Linked DNA regions of Homo sapiens: region 1 is linked to region 2. The links come from fine-mapping of genetic effects on gene expression. Tissue or cell type: whole blood. Region 2 holds a variant in brackets; the other region holds the start of a gene. All regions are shown on one strand. Distances are from middle to middle.

The links.
Region 1: it holds the start of FBRSL1, and the variant in region 2 is fine-mapped to the expression of FBRSL1 in whole blood (GTEx, PIP 0.98). The same link has a PIP of 0.9 or more in CD4 T cells.

Annotation. Positions count from the first base shown.
Region 1 is chr12:132,484,398-132,495,003 of GRCh38, forward strand. FBRSL1 (fibrosin like 1) reads left to right here and starts at 5,754. Exons shown (of 19, transcript NM_001367871.1): 1 at 5,754-6,464. The coding sequence starts at 6,174. RefSeq lists enhancers at 4,715-4,844, 6,842-7,405, 8,119-8,188 and silencers at 5,035-5,104, 5,235-5,684.
Region 2 is chr12:132,508,339-132,516,338 of GRCh38, forward strand. FBRSL1 (fibrosin like 1) reads left to right here. Exons shown (of 19, transcript NM_001367871.1): 2 at 1-12. Among named protein-coding and RNA genes, the nearest start is that of FBRSL1, 22 kb to the left of the region's middle. The variant C/T (reference allele first, on the strand shown) is at 3,446.

The sequences.
Region 1 (10,606 bases), 23 kb before region 2:
CCTGAATCCAGCCCTGCCTGAAGCCGGAGCCTGTCGGGAACCCCACGGGGTGTGGGCTGCTGCCTGAATCCAGCCCTGCCTGAAGCCGGGGCCTGTCGGGAACCCCACAGGTACGGGCTGCTTTGGGTTTGCATTTCTGCCACTTTCAAGGGAAAGAGCCCAAGCTAATCCCGGCTGCTTGTCCCTGGCCTCTCCTCCTTCCCACAGCCTGACCCCACACCAGGCTGGGCACCCCACTGCAAGGGGCAGACTCGGGGGCCAGGGCCTGGCACAAGGACCCTCCTCCCAACCTGCAACGTCCCTTTCTGGTGTGAGCACCTGTGCAAGCTTGTGCACTCTCACACTGCACACGGAGCATGGCCAGCTGAAACACTCTCCAAGGAGAGCCAGGGAGTGGCTGCCAGGAGAGAAAGGTAAGTGTGGTAACGGGGAGAGCCAGGCGCATGGGAGCTCACGGACATCATGACGGTGACATAGCGTCCTGAGGAACTGACTGGGAGACTCCAGTGCTCCTGACACAGACTGGGAGGGGCAGTGGCAGGAGGTGGCTGGAGCCCACGGTGCTGCAGGCCTGGAACGGCCCAAGCCCGCTGAGGTGCGGGGACAGGGGGTCTGCAGCAGTCACACGACGGCAGGAGTGTAACCTGGCTGCTCCGTGTGGCTCCCTCTGCCTTCTGCATTCCACTCCTGCTTTCCAACATGCCTGCTGGTTTTCTGTGGTCAGCCCTAACCCAGAGCCATCTGGCGATGAAAATTCTAAGAAATTCTCTGCTGCTCAGCAGGGCCCACCTCACGCAAAGCCACCATCAGCCTCAGGAAGGAGTGGCATTGGGTTAGGGCTTGGGGGAGAGGGAGGGTCCAGGGGAAAGGACGGCAGGTCTCAAGCCCCTGCGGAGGGAACACGCCTGCTCCCCTGGGTGAACAGGGAGGGGGCGGCCCGCAGAGCTGCAGCAGGCTCGGAACCAGGCAACAGCACATCCTCAGGAGCAGGATGACTGGAAGGGGGCACGTTGAGGACTCCAAACACTCAATTGCCTTGACATGTGGCTCAAGGCACATTCTAACTGCAATGCCAGGAAGAGGCCACCTGACTGGTGTCACCTGGGTCACCTGCATGACAAACTGAGCCATCACACCCCACCAGAGCAGAAAGCACGACTTCTCTGCCCCGTGGAGGCTGGTCCTAGCCTTGAAACTTCCTTGACAGACACAACATGAGGCTTCAAGCACGGGCTTCTCCTAGGTTTATATGGCTCTGCTCAGCCTCCTGAGCCACTGAGGGAGAATGAACGCCTGCATCCCACAGAAAGAGGCCAGTGGATTATAGCTGGGCCTAACCAAAGTCCAAATGAAGAAGCAAAGCCCCTCTTGTCACCCTGCAACCCTGTGAGCAAGGCATTGTCACTGAGGGCCCAGGGGCTGTTTGTTACACAGCGTTCTCCAAGCAAGAGCTGACTGACGTTCCTTTGTTCCTTTTCTAGGGGAGCATGGGGCCTTAGGACCTGCTGTGTCACCAGACGGCACCCACAAGAGCAGACTATGCATCCAAAATACACTGAGGTGCCATTACGGGAAGGAAGAGGGGTGCATGCGGAGGGCTGGAGCTGACAGCCGGCTCACAGATGGGGCTGGGGGCTGCAAGAAATGGAACATACTTTCTACTTTTTGGCTGTCACCCCACAGGCAAGTTTGAAACCCAAAGGGCAAATGGCTTAGCTGATTTATAGAGCCTAATTTGGATCCGTTGCCCCAAATTGAATTTTGAATACAATTTCACATCAATTAACTTTGCACAGAGCCTTACAGATGGCAGGGAAGGACTCTCTAAAGCAAAGGCCAGTGGCTACGATGGAGGAGCTGATGTGCCATCCCGGAGCCCACCGATGCTCATAGCACCACTCAGGGCTCTGACCCGGGCGGGTTGGAAGGATGAGAGCTAAGGGGTGTGACGTGAGCAGGAAAGGGACCCGGGCTGGTTGGAAGGATGAGAGCTAAGGGGTGTGGCGTGAGCAGGAAAGGGACCTGGGCTGGTGGTGGGGCCAGAGAGCTGAGCCCTAGGGGCTGGGAAGGAGTTGTGGGCAGGAGCTGTGGGCCTCCAGCAGAGTGGAGAGAAAAGGGGTTTTGCTGGCAAGAGCTGGGGAAGAGGGTGGGGAGGGGCTGGAGGGCTTGATGAGCACCCACCTACGGCCCTGATTGTACCAGGGCCCTGACTGTGGTGCATTCAAACCCATGGTTCCCAGAGTGTGGTCCCCGACCAGCCCCAGAGAACCTCAGACGTGAGGGGTGGGGAACCCTGGGGTGGGCTCAGCTGTGTGTGCTCACACCTCCCTCCCGTCGTGGGTCTGAGGCCTCCATTGACTCACACACCGATTCACACACACCCAGGGGCTTTCACACCCCCGACGGCGGGACGCCTCATCGCCACGCCACCCCCACTTTATAGACGGGACGATGGAAGCACGTTAAATCATTTGCCCAAAATATTCTAAGTGGGTGGCACAGCTGAGGCTGGGGCCCAGGCGAGCCGGTCTAGAACTTCCCTGTCCAGCATGGTAGCCACCAGCCCCACAGGCTATTATATTTTAGATTAAAGTCTGTAAGTAAAATGTATAATCCAGTTCTTCAGCTGCACTTGCCACACTGCAGAGGCTTGAGCCACTCGTGGCTGGCGGCCACCGTCCGGACAACCCAGCCATTCCCTCCACTTCCGAGCTCTGCAGGCCACTGGCCTGGAGGTCTCCTAACCGCTGCAGTCTCTACCTTCCAAAGCACCCCATCCTGCCCGGGGCAAGAGAGGGCAGATGTGTGAGCACACAAACTGAAAAACCAAACAAGCACAGGAGGTCCAACCTGCACCACACCAAGAAGTCAGTGGGAGTGTGGGGGGTGGGGTTCGTGCTGCAAGCTCTGCCCAGGGCCCTGGCAAGCCCCAGGGAGGTTCGGAGTCCTGGGTGGGATGTCCGGTCACTGTGATGCGTGCTCCCGGAGACACACAGCCCGGTCCGCAAGCAGGCAAGTACGCATCTGTCAGAAACCACCCCCAGAACCACCCCCAGAACCACCATCCCTCCCAAGGGCTTCCCATCCAGCACGTAGCCCAGCTGCTTTCTTCTGTAAGAGAAGGTTCCCAAAGCAAGCCCTCCCTGGGGAGCACCTGAGCCCAGAACTCCAGAGACGGCGGCTGGTCCCTGGGGAGCACCTGAGCCCAGAACTCCAGCATCGGCGGCTGGTCCCTGGGGAGCACTTGAGCCCAGAACTCCAGAGATGGCGGCTGGTCCCTGGTTGGCCATCTGGACACCTGGAAATGGATCAAAGGAGAGAAGGCACCTGGGGACGCCTTCCCCAGGACAGCCAGGGAAACCCGGGGGGGAGCCCAAAAAGGAAGCCCCTGAGGAGGTCTACAGAGCCCCTGCCCTTCACTGGGGTCACACATCTGAACATCTTCGGAGATCAGATAAACAAACAGTGTATGTCTATAATCAGAAACTTCAGGCTGGGCACAGTGGTTCACGCCTGTAATCCCAGCACTTTGGAAAGCTGAGGCGGGTAGATCACCTGAGGTCAGGAGTTCGAGACTAGCTTGGCCAACATGGCGAAACCCCATCTCTACTAAAAATACAAAACATTAGTCAGACATGGTGGCATAGGCCTGTAGTCCTGGGTACTCGGGAGGCTGAGACAAGAGAATGGCTTGAACCCGGGAGACGGAGGCTGCAGTGAGCCAAGATCACGCCACTGCACTCCAGTCTGGGTGACAAAGTGAGATCTGTCTCAAAAAAAAAAAAAGAAAAAGAAAAAGAGAAAGAAACTTCAAATCCAAAACCTCAGACCTTCCCAAGCAATTCTTCTGGGGGGGAGGGGGTGCCCACAGGATGCCCCTTGCAGTCTGACTGACCTCTGGGCCCAGCCTAGGGTGGGATGGCCTCTGGGAGCCTCGGGGAACAGGTGAGGACTCCCAGGCTACTTGGGAAGAGGCCTGTATTTAAACAAGAGCCTCAAATGCCACCTGGGTGACCCTCGCCCACATTTCCTGGCCTTCTGTCCAGGGAGGGGAATTCGGGAGCAGGCGTGCATGGAGAAACTACTCGGGGTCCGTTTCTGTCTTCCTAATGAGGCTTTTAAAAATCAAAAGGGAGGATGCTGGAGGGTGAAACCACGGTTTAACAAAACCCGGAATGGGAAGAGGGGGAGGGGGACCCTGCCCCCACCCTGGGGAGGCTTTGACAGGGAACCAGAGAGCGGGCTGGGTGGACTGGAGGAGGCTGGGTGAACAGGAAGTCCCCCCACCCCAGTGAGCTACTTTCCCAACTGCCTCAGCCCAGCAAACAGCCAGTGGTGCCTGGACCACACCCTTCCTGCCCTGCACAAGAGGCCGCCAGTAGGCTCTCCCAGAGGCAGGGTAAAGTGGACCCCGCAGAGTGGGCGAGGACCCGTTCCCACTAAGGGCAACCGAGGGCAGGGTCCCACCACTGTCTTGGGCACCCTCCCCTCCGCCCTCCAGCAAACCACCATTCTTCTCCGAGGGCCTGTGCAGGGGTGTAGCCCCGACCTGAAACAGGGTGCCCATGACTGCTGGGGCTCGGAGTCGTCACTCCTCGGGGAGGCCCTCTGGACCACCCAATGCCCACTCTCTGTGACACCTCCCCGTTCGATTTTCTTCAGATTATCCTTGGCTGATATTCTATTTGGCCCTGTGTTCAGGGTCTCTCTCCCACTTCTAAGAGGGTAGTCTATCTCAGCCGCTGCGGGGTCACCAACAGAGCCTGGACACAGGAGGCATCTGGCAAATACGCGCTGCATGAATCAATGACTCCAGTGCCCACGCGCAAGGGGCCCCTGGGCTCAGAAAACCCCACCAGGCGGGCCCCTCCGAGCTCGGCCTGTCCTGGGGGTGGAGGAGGAAGTTCGCCCCGCGCCTGCCTCGCAACCGCAGCCGCCTCCGTGCGCTTCCTGCCCGCGCCGCCCTCCACACTGCGCTCCGTGTCTGGCAGCAGCCCCCGCCTCGCTGGGCGCGTTCCCGGGGGTCTCGGTGGCGGGAGCCGCCTTCTTGTGGGACTTGGGGGCACGTGGCGCGGGGCGGGGACGCGGACAGACCCCTCCCGCATCCTAGGAGGCCTGGGAGGGTCCGCGGGGACGCGGGGAGGGGGCACCGCCTGGCCGAGGACCCTCCCCCGGTCCTCCCCGCCCCTTCCCCGTCCCTTCCACGCTCGCCGAGGGCAGGACTTCGGTTCCGCGAGACCGGAGGCCCCTCGTCCTCCTCGGAAGCCGCCCGCGGCCGGGGACCCCAGTCCCGCAGAGGAGGGCGGCGCTGCCCCCGCCTCCCGCTTGGAGAGCGCCGCCCGCAGGTGCCCACGGAGGGGCCGCGGCATCCCAGCGCCCTCCCAGGAAGGAGCCGAGCGGATCACCGCCGGCTGCAGCGGAGGTCGGGGCGCCGGGGAGGGGCGCGGCTAGGGGGCGAGGTCGAAGGGCGGGCACCTGCGGGTGGGGCGGGGCCTGAATTAGCGGGAGCGCCCGGGAGGGGCGGGGCCGGGGCCTGCGTGAGCGGGTCGGGGAGGGGGCGGAGCCTGCGGGGGGCGGGGCCTGCGTGAATGGGGCGGGGAGGGGCCGGAGCCTTGTGAGCGGGGCGGGCCGCGTGTGCGGGGTGGGGGCGGAGCCTTATGAGCGGGGCGGGGCAGGGGCGTGGTCGGGGCGGGGCGCGCGGGCGCCCGCGGCGGCCCTCACTTCCTCTGGCGAGCGCAGCCGGGCGGAAGTGCGTCAGTTGTTATCTGTTCGGGGCGCCGCCGCCGCCTCACGAGCCCGGTGCCCAGGAGCCCGGCCGCCTCCCGCCTGCCGCCTGCCGCGCCCGCCCGGCCCCGCCCGCTCGGCCCGATCGCCGCGCCGCGCGCATGGGGCGCGCCCCCGGGGGGGCGGCCGAGGGCCGCTGAGCGCCGGGCCCGCCCCCGCCGATGCGCCCAGCCGCCCGCGCCGGGGGTCCCAGGCCGCGCCGGGCCCGGGGCTGAGCCGCCCCCCGCGCCCGGCATGCCCGGCCCGGCCCGCCGCCCGCCGCCGCCCAGGGCCCGAGCCCGCGCGGCGCACACTCAGCCCGGCGGCGCCGCGTAGCCGAGGGAGCCCGCCTGCTGCGAGCCAGGCGCGGGGCGTCAAGGTCACCGGCCCGACGGGGCGCACGCGCGGCCATGGAGGCCAAGGTCCGCCCGAGCCGGCGCTCGCGCGCGCAGCGGGACCGTGGCCGGCGCCGGGAGGCCGCCCGCGACGCCCGCGCCCAGAGTCCGTCGTCGGGCGACGAGCCCGAGCCCAGCCCCGGCAAGGAGAACGCGGGCCTCCGCGGCGCGCCCCCCCGAGGCGCCGCCCCCGCGCCCCGCACCGCGCGTCCCCCGCGCCGCCGCCGCCGCGAGTCCAGCTCGCAGGAGGAGGAGGTCATCGACGGCTTCGCCATCGCCAGCTTCAGCACCCTGGAGGCCCTGGAGGTAGGTGGACGGGTGCGGCTTCGCAGGCGTTGAGGCGAGAACGGGGCCCGGAGTTGACGCGTCGGGCGATCCCGGGACCCCTGGGCTTGCGACCGCCCGCGCCGTGGGCAGCCCTGAGGGAAGCCCCGGCCACTTGGTACCCGTTCCAGGGACCCTGGGTGCCCACCGCTCGCCCAGACCGTCGCATCTGGAAGACCCAGCAGCGTCGGGTGGGTTTGGGGACGTTTTAAGTTGCAGAGGCAAAAAAATCTACGCTTCGAAATTGGGGGCTGTCTGACAGCACCGTCGGCCTTTTATCAGTTGTGTTTCTGTGGCCAGCATATCGCTCTGCCTGGTTCAGGACGTGCTAGGGAGCAGTGCTGGATCTTAGGGAGGTGGTGATAAAATGGATACTCCGCGGGCCATCCCGTTCCCTCCTCCCTTCGAGGGCTCTGCTGAGAAGGGGAGAAGGAGGGTTAATCTCAAGACCCCTCTTGGTGACTGCTGCCTGCTGCATGGTTAATAGATTGGCCAAAAATATTGCTTGTCTGGCTGACGGACAGTATTTGCTGAGCAAATACTGCTCCTCTTACATGAACTCAGCTGAGCAGAGAAGGAAATTAAATGCTGTCTGAGAGTTGGGGCAGGCGCTGTCTCCCCAGGACTGGCATGGGCAGGAATGCTAGCAAGTTGCCCTGCACCAGGGCCGAGACCCGCCCAGCGAGGTGTGCCCCGTGCAGCACTTACTTTGGGGGACCCTCATCTGCTGGACTTTGACTCCCAGAATCACCCCATTTCCAACCCCTCTCACTTTTCCAGGGGCTTGGGAGCCCATGGCCTGGGATCCCCCAGTCTCAGAAGCTGAGCTTTGGGAAAAGGGGAGATGCCTACTGCAGGCCCCTGAAGCAGCAAGTCCTCTTCAAGTTCTCATCCAAACTCTGGGGACTGTAGAGAGCCTTGGGTCAGGGCCGGTGGCCAGGGAAGTGGCCCCAGAACAGGTGCCGCATCGTGTCCCGAGTGCACAGTCAGAGCTGGGGCTTCGTGTCCCAAGTGCACGGACAGAGCTGGGGCTCCTGTGGGCCCAGGACGGGGTGGGTGGTGGCCAGGCTCATCACACAGGCTGGCCATCCTCTGTCCTGCACATTATTAGATGGCTCCAGGGCTGGCACACGCCATTGCTCTGTGCTGGGACGGGATGGCCCTGGGGCTGTCTTCTGCCCTCTCAGTGGTGATAATGACACAGACTGTACGTGTACTGAGCAATACTGCAAGCCAGGCCCTGCGCTCGGCTCCTGCACTGCAGCTGAGACCACGAGGATGCCCACTTTCCAGAGCTGTCGCCACCCACCTGCACCTCCTGGGTCCCTAACCGCGGCTTCCTCACTGCTCCGAGCGGGTCAGCCCTTGTACCCTGCCGTTCTCTGTCTGCTTTATGTTTGGTGCCATTGTGTCTTTGCAAAAACGTCACCTCAGACTCCTCTGAAGTGGTGCCCCCCACCCCCGTCGACGTTGCCCACCTTCTTTTTGTCATCCCCACTCTGCAAAGCTGTTTTAGAATGTCTTTGCTCTCCATTTTCGTCTCCCACAAGAACTTGTAAGCTGAAAGAGAGCAGACACTGTGCTGTCCTGTGTGTCTCCTATGGGGTCTGGTGCCGGGAAGAGCTCGATGTGTAGAAAGTGCCCCAGATGCGTGTGTCAGGAATCTGAGTGAGGAGATGAACTGTACTCAGGAGATCCAGGGCCAATCCCAGGCCCACGTGTTTTGCCCGCAGCGGCTCTGACTGGCTGTCCACCTGCTCTGGCAGGGTCACGTGCCCCCAGCCTGCAGGCAGTGGGTTCAGTGGGTTTTGGTGACTTCGGCTTAGACCAGCTGGCCCCTCAGGTCATAGTGAGACAAGTCTGCTGCTGCGTGGCGTTAACACAGCCACAGCACCCCAGGGTGGTTTCATGTCCCTTCCTCTGCCCTTCGGAGCCTGCCTGGGAAAGTACGGGGCTTCTGCACAAGTCATAACCTCGTGATCATCCCATACGTGTCTCTTGGTTGTCTACATTTTTTGCCAAAGTATGGTGGTTTTTCCCCAAAGTTCAGATAATTCATAATTATATCAATAGTAGTGACTGGTTCAGTAAGCATTCTCTCCATCAGGCAGTGTTCTGAGCTGCCTTTCACAGACATCAACTCATTTACTCCTCAAATGACCCACGAGGAGGGCTGGATGCCCCCATTCCACAGATGGGGACCTTGAGGCTCCCCATTGAGGCAGAGCAAGAGCAAGGAGCACTGGGTGCCACGCCTGTCCGGCCTTAGAGTGAGCGGGCGCTGCCCTGCGAGGCCACCCACACGGGACACCGAGGGAGATGTGGCCACCAGGACCCAGCCCAGAGGCACAGCCTGCCCTTGGCTCTGCCGCCTTTGCTCACAGTCCCTCTGCCCCCACCCGCGTCTTGAGGGCTCTTCCTACTCTGGGATGCTGGAGGATGGGACGCTCAGGAGTTGGAGGAAGCCCTTGTAACCCCAGAGGCTGGCTTGTGCCCGCGGGACACTGCAGTGGTATAAACAACCAAACACAGGTGTAGACTTGCCGGGGAGGTGCAGCCTGCCTGCAGGAGTCCTGTTACCTCACCCCAGACCCCACACACACTGGGACCAACTCTCGGCCCCAGCCCTGGCCCCTGGGGCAGACCCCCACTCGCAGCCCCTTCTGACCCCAGGCAGACCACCCTCTCCGCCTGTCTGAACAGGCACCCCTTGCCCTGTGCCCGGGGCAGGTCTCTGTACCTGTTTTGTGCCCCCGGCAGGTCCCTGCCCCTTTTCTGTGCCCTGGATGGGACACACAGGCTGTTCTGTGCCCGGGGCAGGCCCCCGCCCCCTTTGTGTACCCTGGGTGGGACACATAGGCCGTTCTGTGCCCGGGGCAGGCCCCCAGCATCTGCACATTTATATGTGCTCCTGTAGGGGAGGAGGAGTCCCCGCTTGTCCTGGGCCTGTGTGTGCTGTGAACACAGCAGGCACTCCCTAAATGGTGGTGGTGGTGGTTGTGGGCTGAGGAGGGCCAGGGTCTGGCCTGGCTCAGGGTGTGCCTGCAGCCCTGGAGACAGCATTAATGATTAACTGCCCATAGAGATGGGAGCCCTGTGGCAGGGCTGAGGACCTGCAGAGGGGCGTGCTGGGCTGGGTGTGCTGGGGTGGGTGGGGCGGCGCGGCAGACCTGAGCCAGCCCCCGCTTGACTTTCTACTCTGTAACCAGGGGCCGTGGTATGTGGGGACAGGAGGCCTGAGGAAGCCCCGCTGGCCTCTCCCCTGCTCTTGTTCTGACCGGGAACTCTGGGTGCTTGGGAACGTGGCTCTTGCTGTCCCTTTTGTTTCCTGTGACAACTCTGTCCCCTGGTTGTACTGACCAGAGGACACTGGAAGCCCCCTACCCCTGGAGCAGTGCTGTGGCCATACGTGCCTGGTCAGTGCTGCTGTTCTCTGCCTGGGGTCCTCCCAAGAAGACTGGGGTCTGAGAGGTGTATCCAGGGCTGTGTCAGACCCCATCTTCCCACATAGCAAAGGCCATCCTTATCTGGCCTCAGGCCACAGAACAGGTTGTGCCGGTCCCTGTGTCTCCTGGGAGATAGGCCAGGCCTGCTTAGCCCAGTGGGCTGCACCGCCCACTCCCACATGCTGGCCGCTCGGCCCCAGTGACGCTGGCCATGGTGCTCTGGGCTGCGCCTGGGCCACAGGGAGGTGGCAGGGTGCCCAGGAGCACATTGGCCACTAGCTCCAGGCGGACACCACCATTCTGGTTTGGTGTCTGTGATTTTTGGTTAATTTGCATTTTTCAAACAGCAAATCACTTTCACCTGGTGACTTTCACTTGGTCCACACGTCAAGCTCCATAAGAAGGTGCGTGCTGAAGCTTGAGCTGTTCCCTGACTGGCACACGGGCCACGCAGAAGGTCCACGTGTGTCCCAGGAATAAAGGCGGAAGGAAAGCACCCAGCCTCCTGGCTCGGTGGCCAGCGGTCTCCTCTAACGCCTGTGCTTCCACATTCTCTGCTCAGCATAAACCACAGGACATGCACCCAAAATGCTGCTGAACCTGCACAGACGGTTGTGCTTAAGAAACCCCAGGCTACTGATCGTGTGCGGCCCCCGGCCTCCCAGGGCTGTCTGTGGG
Region 2 (8,000 bases):
CCCTCCAAGCAGGTGAGCAGGTCCCTCCCCGACCGGAAGCTCTGCGGCGGGTCAGTGCTCACCGCCCCAGGGCCATGCCAGCACCTGGACACCACGCCACGTGGCCCCCGGGCCTGCCTGGCAGCGCGCCCATCGTTGTCAGGCTTGGGGTGCAGGACACGTGGACAGGGCTGGGGCCTAGCAGAGGCAGGAGCCGGCTGGGTCACGGAGGGGCCGTGACGTGCCCAGGGCCACAGCAGGAGAGGTGCCTGTCTGGGGCAGCAAGGCGCGCGTTCCGGGCTGGGGCGCCAAGCTGATAGGCCGGCCCCGTTTCCCTGCCGTGTCCATCAGGCTCCGCCGACTACAGGTGTCCAGAGTGTCTATAAGGAGGGGGTCCAGGCTCATTGCCGAGGGCTGTCCTGTCCACACGCAGCGCCATCCGCTCACGTGTGCGGCGTGGGGAAGGGAATACTTGGTCCCGGCAGTGGCTGCAGGCACGTGACTGTGGTCAGTGGTCAGGTGCGTGGCCCAGCTGGGAACAGGGCTCTGCCTGCCCTGCCCAGGGGCCTCCTGCCCAGGAGGGGCTGTCAGAGCAGGTGGGGGCTTCCCCAGCGCGTGGGGCTCTGTCCTGGGTGCAGCTCAGCCTGCAGCTGCTTCCTCCGCGGGGGTCCGCTGGTGTGCGCCTTCCTTCCAGGGTGGGGCTCTGCGCGGTGTCCTCGGCTCTCCTCGGCCCCCTTGGGAATTGGGCTGCTGGAGAAGGGCAGCATGCCTCCTGGGCCCGGGCTGGACGGGGGTTCCGCGGGCGGTGACACCTGCCCAGGTGGACACGTGCTCTTTCTTCCATGCAGGTGTGCTCCCCAGAAGGGGGGCCGCTCCCAGCCAGCCACTGGGACCAGAACGGCCCGGCCCAGCGCCAGCAACAGCTCCAGCCCAGCCAGTCCAGCCAGCCCCAGGGGTCCCTCCCAGCCCCGTCGGCACTCCCGGACCCTGGGCAGCCCTGCCAGCCCTCCCAGCGGCCACTCCTGGGTCAGCGCAGCTGGCCCCAGCGGTCACTTCTGGGCCTGAAACAGCCCTGCCAGCCCCGGCGGTCACTTCTGGGCCCCGGTCAGCCCTGCCGGCCCCAGCGGCTCCTTCCATCCCCAGATCAGCTCTGCCAGCCCCAGCGGTCACGCCCGGCCCAGCCCTGCCGGCCGCATTGGGCACTCCCAGGCCCCAGGCAGTGCTGCAGGCGCCTGCGGTCCCTGCTGACCCCGTGTCACCACTGCCGGCGCCTGCGGTCCCTCCTGGCCCCACGGTCCCTCCTGGTCCCCTGCCTCTACTGCCGGCGCCTGCGGTTCCTCCTGGCCCCAAGGCACCGCTGCAGGCGCCTGCGGTCCCTGCTGACCCTGTGGCACCGCTGCCGACCCCTGCGGCCGTGGGCCAGCCCGTGTCACTGTGGCCAGCCCGGTAGGGCATCCTCAGGACAGCGCAGCCGGCCCCTGTGGTCGCTGCTAGCCCAGTGCCAGCGGTACCAGCCCCCGCGGCCACTCCTCACCCTCCGACCACGCCGACGGCCCGCCAGCTTCCTCCCAGGACAGTGCTGCTGCCCCCGGCGGGCCTTCCTAGCCCCGTGTCAGTACGGCCAGCCCCGAAGGTCCCTGCTGGGCCAGCCCAGCCGCCCCCGGCGGTCGCTGCTGCGCCCCAGGCAGCCCCAGCGGTTAGTGGAAGCCCCAGAGCAGCCCGGCCCACTCACGCCTTCACTCCTGGGCCCGGGACGGCCGAGGCAGCAGAAGCAGCCGCTCATGGGCCCGGAGCAGCCCTGCCCACCCAAGCGGCCGCTCATGGGCCCAGAGCAGCCCTGCCAGCCCCTGCGGCCGCTCATGGGCCCCAACAAGCCCTGCAAACCCCAGCCGTTGCTCCCCATTCCCGATCGCCCTTCACTCCTGGGGCAGCCGGGCCCACCCTGCCGGCCTCTCCTGGGGCTCCTGTGCCAGCCGCGGCGGTCCCTATTGGATCTGGTGCCGGCCCGTCAGCCCCGGCTCTCGCTCCTGGCCCTGGGCCATCCCTGCCGGCCCCTGCGGTCCCGGTGGACCCGATCCTGTGCCCCCGGGATGGCCCGTCAGGCCCCATCTGTGAGCCCTGGAGCCTGATGCCTGCAGGCACCTCCCCATATGGGTTTTCCAGCCCACTCCAGTGTGATCTGCACCCTGGCAGGGCCCCAAGGGCCAAGGCCGCATTGCCCTTCGGGCTGGAGATGCTTTGCCGGACTAGCCTGAGGCCTTGTCTAGACAGGGCTGAGCTGTTTGTCGTTGGAAATTGAGGCTCGGCCAGAGGCGGGAGCCCCTACAGTGCCACGATCAGGCTGAGGCTCACCACACCAGGAAGAGAGATGAACCCGCGTCTGCCTGCCGCCCCGCCATGCTCCCTCTCCCCCCACTGGCGTCACAGTGCCCCCACCCGCGTTGCTGCCTGTGGTGTGCGTGCCCTGGGAGGGGAACACAGCCCCTGAGGGCGGGGACCTTGCTGGGGGCCCCTCAGCGTCTTTCTGTGCCTCTGAATTGCCAATACTGTCCTTGCATCTCTGAGTCTACGTGCACGCTTGCCCCTGGCGTGCCACCTGTGCGGAGCGCGTGAGCCTGGTGTGTGCGTGCTGTGTGTGCATGTGTGCGAGAGGGTGTGAGAGTGAGTGGCGTGCTGGGCATGAAGGATCTGTGGGGTGCTGCAGTTCCTGCAGAGTGGCCCAGTGGCGAATGGTGAAGGTGTGGGTTTCAGTCCAGGCCCTCCCCCTGGTAGTCAGGAGGTGCTGGTGTCCACCTCCAGGGCCCCCAAGCTACAGGGGGCACATGGGCCCATCTGGTGGGTCAGGACCTGCAGGGGACCCGGAGGCTCCCACCCCCACCTCTCAGGACTCTGCCTCCACCACCCCCGTGGGCATGCACTGAAGGGTTGCCTGCAGGGTCTCCAGGCGAGGGGGACCCCACAGGGTGGGCAGCGCCTTCTCCCGGCTTCCCCACAGTCCCCTGCAGCGTCCCGTCTGGCTGTTGACCTACATGTGGTCGGGCACACCTCACACTACAAGGCTACCCCTGGGCCCATCCCTGCCCCTTCCACGGCCCCCACCTGTGGTCAGGTGTTGCCACCCCCTCAGGACCTGGTCTCAAGGCAGCCCCACTCGAGTCTTCTGGAGTCCAAGGCACGCCACTCGCCCAAAAGGGAGGGGGTGTTTGGGGGGGCTTTGACTGTCTCCAGACCTCAGGGGAGCTGGGCAGGCTCTAACCAGTGGTCCTCCAGAGAGCAGCGTTGACCACCTGGACCCCTGCGCCACGTGACAGGAGGCTCTGGTCCTGCAGGCCTGGTCTTGCCCAGCTGGGCTGCCTCAGGTGTCAGGAAGGGGATGGGTGTCCCTGGCTCCCAGGCCAGGCAGCTGCTGACCTCCAGCACCCCGCACTTGCTCATGAGGACCCCACCCCCGCAGGCCCTCCCGGGT[C/T]CTGACCAGCCTCTGGTGCAGCATCTGCTTTGGCCTCCGGGCCCCCTCGCTCCCCACCCACCCGGGCCCCTTCCTCCGGTGCTCACCTGGGGCCTCCATCCCAGAAGCGCAGGGCTTATTTTTCTGATTAAAGAAAATAAAAAGTGCCGTGCCACTATTTTTTATAACAGCATCAGCGTTTGTAATTTAAACAGACGAGCATGTGTCTTACGTGATTTATTCCCACAAAGGGCTTTTGTGCTGGGCTTGGCTCGGGATTCATTGCACTCTGACCGAACAGAGGGGAGACCTGGAGCATCTGTTCCTGACCTTCCTGCCCACCCATCTGAGGCCTGGAATGGGGGTTTGTACTGTGCTCAGCATGGGGGCACCGGCCTCCAGATCCCCCCACCGCAAGGCTACTGTGTGGGCCAGTGTGACAGGGGTCGAGACCCCCCTCTCGGCTCATGCCTGGGGGGCACCCATCCCCGGGATCAGTGTCCTGGGGACTGGTGAGGGAGGGTGGTTCAGCTCAGAGTCCTCTGCATGGCCTGGGCACGCGTGAGGGAGCATGGTTCAGCCCAGCATCCTCTGCACAGCCTGTCAGGTGCTTGTGTTCTGCTCACGGAAGGCCGGGGCATGGAGGGGCCGAGTCCTGGCTGCAGCGCCCTGGCTGAGCTCCAGGCTGGACCTGGCACACTTGGGGTGCGGGCTTGGAGGGCGGTGCCATCTCAGAGTCACCCACACAAGCCATTGCCCCGCAGAGGGGCTGAAGTTGCCTTCAGACGTCCCTGTTGTCAGGCGTGGGGAACAGTGATGATTTAAACAGTCTCCTGCCCTCTTTCCACTTTCAGGCCCCTGCCCCTACCCCCGGGCTCCTGTGAGTACAGAGGGGGCCGAGTGAGTAGAGCCATGTCTGGGGCAGGCCTGAACGGGCTGAGGGAGTGGGGAGGGGCCATCCATGCTGGAGCTGAGCAGTGGCACTTGGCTGCCCCTTAATGGGGAAGGCCAGGCTGCCAGGGAGGGCTGAGGAGAGCTGGAAACTGCAGCCTGGGTCCCTGTGGCCAACAGCTGGGGGTGCAGAGGACACCCGTGGAGGAAACATTCAGGACCCAGAGGGGCTCTCGAGGCCTGGCCATGACCCTGCAGCCTCCAGCTCGAACCCACTGTCTGCACTGGCTTGCGGTCGGGGTGCCGCCATGGGGAGGGCAGAGACACCAGGGCGCTATGGTGCTGGACATCCATGTTGTGTCCTGGGGCCCGCGCCCTGGTGGGGACACTGCTGCCAGGCGTCGCCCTGGGAAATGCAGATTTCGTGTGGCCAGATCTTTGATGTTTCTGAAGAGCTGGGAATCCAGGTTTCTCTGGATTTGGCAATGTTGAAATGTTGGTGGTCAATTCTAATTTTTATGACTCACTTTGCTGACCAGAAGATGCAGCTGTGGGCCTGCGAGGCCTCCGGCAAGTGGGATTTGGCTCCCATCACAGGCAGCAGATTGGAGCCTGAGGCCTGGTTGGAACATGGCTTGTTCCCTTGTTTCTGGAAGGGGTTGGTACTCAGTGGGGCTGCGCCTGCCCAGGAAGATGGGCTTGTGTCCTGGCTGCTGTAGAGGGGGTGGGGGCAGCCCAGCCTGAAGGTTGAGGATGGAGGTGTCTTCCGGGGGGTGACAGTGGGGATCTGGGGGAGGCTGCCCGCTGCCCGACTACAGAGACCCTGTTGCTGCCTCAGGAACCCCTCTGGAGACTGGGGCCTGCGTGCAGTGCTTTAGTGACCATCAGCCCTCTGGTCACCTCTGTGGGGGCCTCTGCCCACCTTGTTGTTGTTGGCACAGGCAGGCTGGTCCCCTCCCATCTGCAGAAGGGGTTATGGGGAGGGCGTGAGCCTTCTGGGAGAGGCCGAGGCGTGTTCCTGCAGAGCCCACGGCAGACGAGGGCAGTGGTTGGTTTGTTGTTGGGGGAGGAGAAGGGGAGGTCGGGGTGGATTCCTGGAAGATGGGTGACACTGAGACTGTGGCGGTGGGGCCAACCCCACGAGGGGCCTGGAGCTCTAAGGCCCTTGGGTCCTCCCCAGGTCAGGCCAAGTCCATGAGCCATCGCTGAGCAGCCCCCAGGGAGGGAGGGGTGTGAGCGTGGGTGGGCTCCCGGCACCTGGCCCAGCATCCACGCCTGGTGTGTGGGCATCTGCCTGCAGACCCTCGTCCGAGGGCCCCGTCTCTCTGGACCCCTCACTGCAGGTGAATAGCCACAGTCCCTCCCCCAGGCCCTGCCCTGCGTGTTGGAAACACCACCTCCTGGGCCTTCCCCGTTTGCTCATTCGGGATCCTTGTCTGGGCACTGAGGACGATGAGCTCCGCCTCTGTTCTCGCGTCAGGGCTCGGCTCCTCCGTGTGTGGGGAGACAGGCTGGGATAGCATGCTGGGCGACTGTGGTGAGGGCAAAGACACAGAGGGCATGAGTGGGGGGCTGGGGGGGCACCTGGATGTTCAGAGGCCAGAAGGCAGGACTACCCGCAGGTGCCCAAGGGAGACCCAGGGCCGCCCAGAAGTCCAGGGGGAGTCCTGGGGCCTCGGAGGGATCTGAGCAGGGCTGCGGCCTGACCCAGGATCTCTCTGGCCTCCCTGGCGTCTTCCCAGGTGGCCCAGGACCGCAGTACCAGACTGAGCTGGACTGGCATTGACCAGGCCGAGGCCACCGGCCATCCTCCTCCGGCCAGAAGCTGCAGTGATAGGGGACATCCCTAGCAGTTCACAAAGCTGTGGGGAGACCCCGAGGGGGAAGGGTTTCCATGCTGAGCCACAGGCCCGGCCACGGTGCAAAGCTGTGGGGGGACTCCGAGGAAGAAGGGTTTTCATGCTGAGCCACAGTCCCGGCCATGGTGCAGGGATTTGGCACGAAGCCTCTCCTAGGGCCGGTACACGACCTAGAGGGCTCCCTGGTGTACCCTGGGACCTGGCAGAGTGCAGCTTCTCATCCAGCAGGGGTGGGTAGGGCCCTGGACTCTCCTAGGGCAGCACTGTTTAATAGGAGTGTTATGTGAGCCACATATAGAGTTAAGAAGAAATAAGTAAAATTCATTTTAATGAAGTATTGCGTTTCACTCCATGTACTTTGAAAATAGTATTTCAACAATGTAATCTATATAAAAATTGTCACATCTTTTTTACTCTTTTTTTTGTAGAGTCTGGGAAAGCCAGCAGGTGTTTTACATTTACAACACTTGAGTTTAGACTGGCAGCTTCTGCGCCCAATAACCACAAGGCTGACAGCAGGGAGGTGTGGGGGGTCCAGAACAATATACCCTCTGTGAGTGCTTATCTCATGCCCATGCTGTTCCCAGGCGCCTGCTGTCTGTCTCCTCATCCTCTACCTCATCGGCTCTATGGTTTGAGGCCAGACCTCATGCATCAGGCCAGAGTGTCCTGCCGAGACCCAGGATGCACCCCTCACTTGGCACAGACAAACCAGACACACCAGCTTCTGTCTTTCCCCATTTCAGTGGGTGAACCTGGAACCACCCAGATGACTGGGCTAGAAGTTGACAGTCATTCTCCTCTCCTCACTCCCCTGTCCTCCCACCCAGCACACCCAGCCAGGCAGGTCCTTAGCTTCCACCTCCTGAATCTCTGACCTGAATTTCACTAGAAAATAAGGAATACTACGTCAAAATTTATGGGATGCAGCTAAAGCAATCCTTAAAGGAAAACTAGCTTGTGCTTATATGGGAAAAGAAGAAAGGTCTAGAATCTTAAGGTTTTACCTTAAGAAACCAAAAAAAAAAAAAAATGGAAGGTTTGTAAACCTATAAAGGAAAGCCATAGTATAGACAAGAACAGAAATACAGAAATTAATGAGGCAGGCCAGGTGCGGTGGCTCACGCCTGTAATCCCAGCACTTTGGGACCCCAAGGAGGGTGGATCACTTGAGGTCAGGAGTTCAAGACCAGCCTGGCCAACATGGTGAAACCCGTCTCTACTAAAAATACAAAAAATTAGCCAGGCACGGTGGCGCACACCTGTAGTCCCAGCTGCTTGGGAGGCTGAGGCATGCCAATCACTTGAACCCAGGAGGTGGAGGTTGCAGTGAGCTGAGATCACGCCACTGCACTCCAGCCTGGGCAACAGAGTGAGACTCCGTCTCAAAAAAAAAAAAAAAAAAAAAATTAATAAGGTAGGAAACAGACAATAGAGGAAATGAACAATGCCAAAAGGTGTTTTCAAAGTTGAGAAATCCCTAGCTAGATCAATCAGAAAAAGAAAACACAAATTATGAATATTAGGAACAAAAGGGGAAATATCATTACAGGCACTATAGACACGAAAAAGGTGAAATGGGGACAATTTTATTCCAACAAATTCAACAGCTTAGGTGAAGTGGGCAAATTACTTGGAAAACAAAACTGACACAAGATGAAATAGATAATCCGAATAGTCTTTTTTTTTTTTTTTTGAGATGGAGTCTTGCTCTATCACCCAGGCTGGAGTGCAGTGGCACAATGTTGCGCAAGCTCTGCCTCCCGGGTTCAAGCAGTTCTCCTGCCTCAGCTTCCTGAGTAGCTGGGATCACAGGCAAGTGCCAC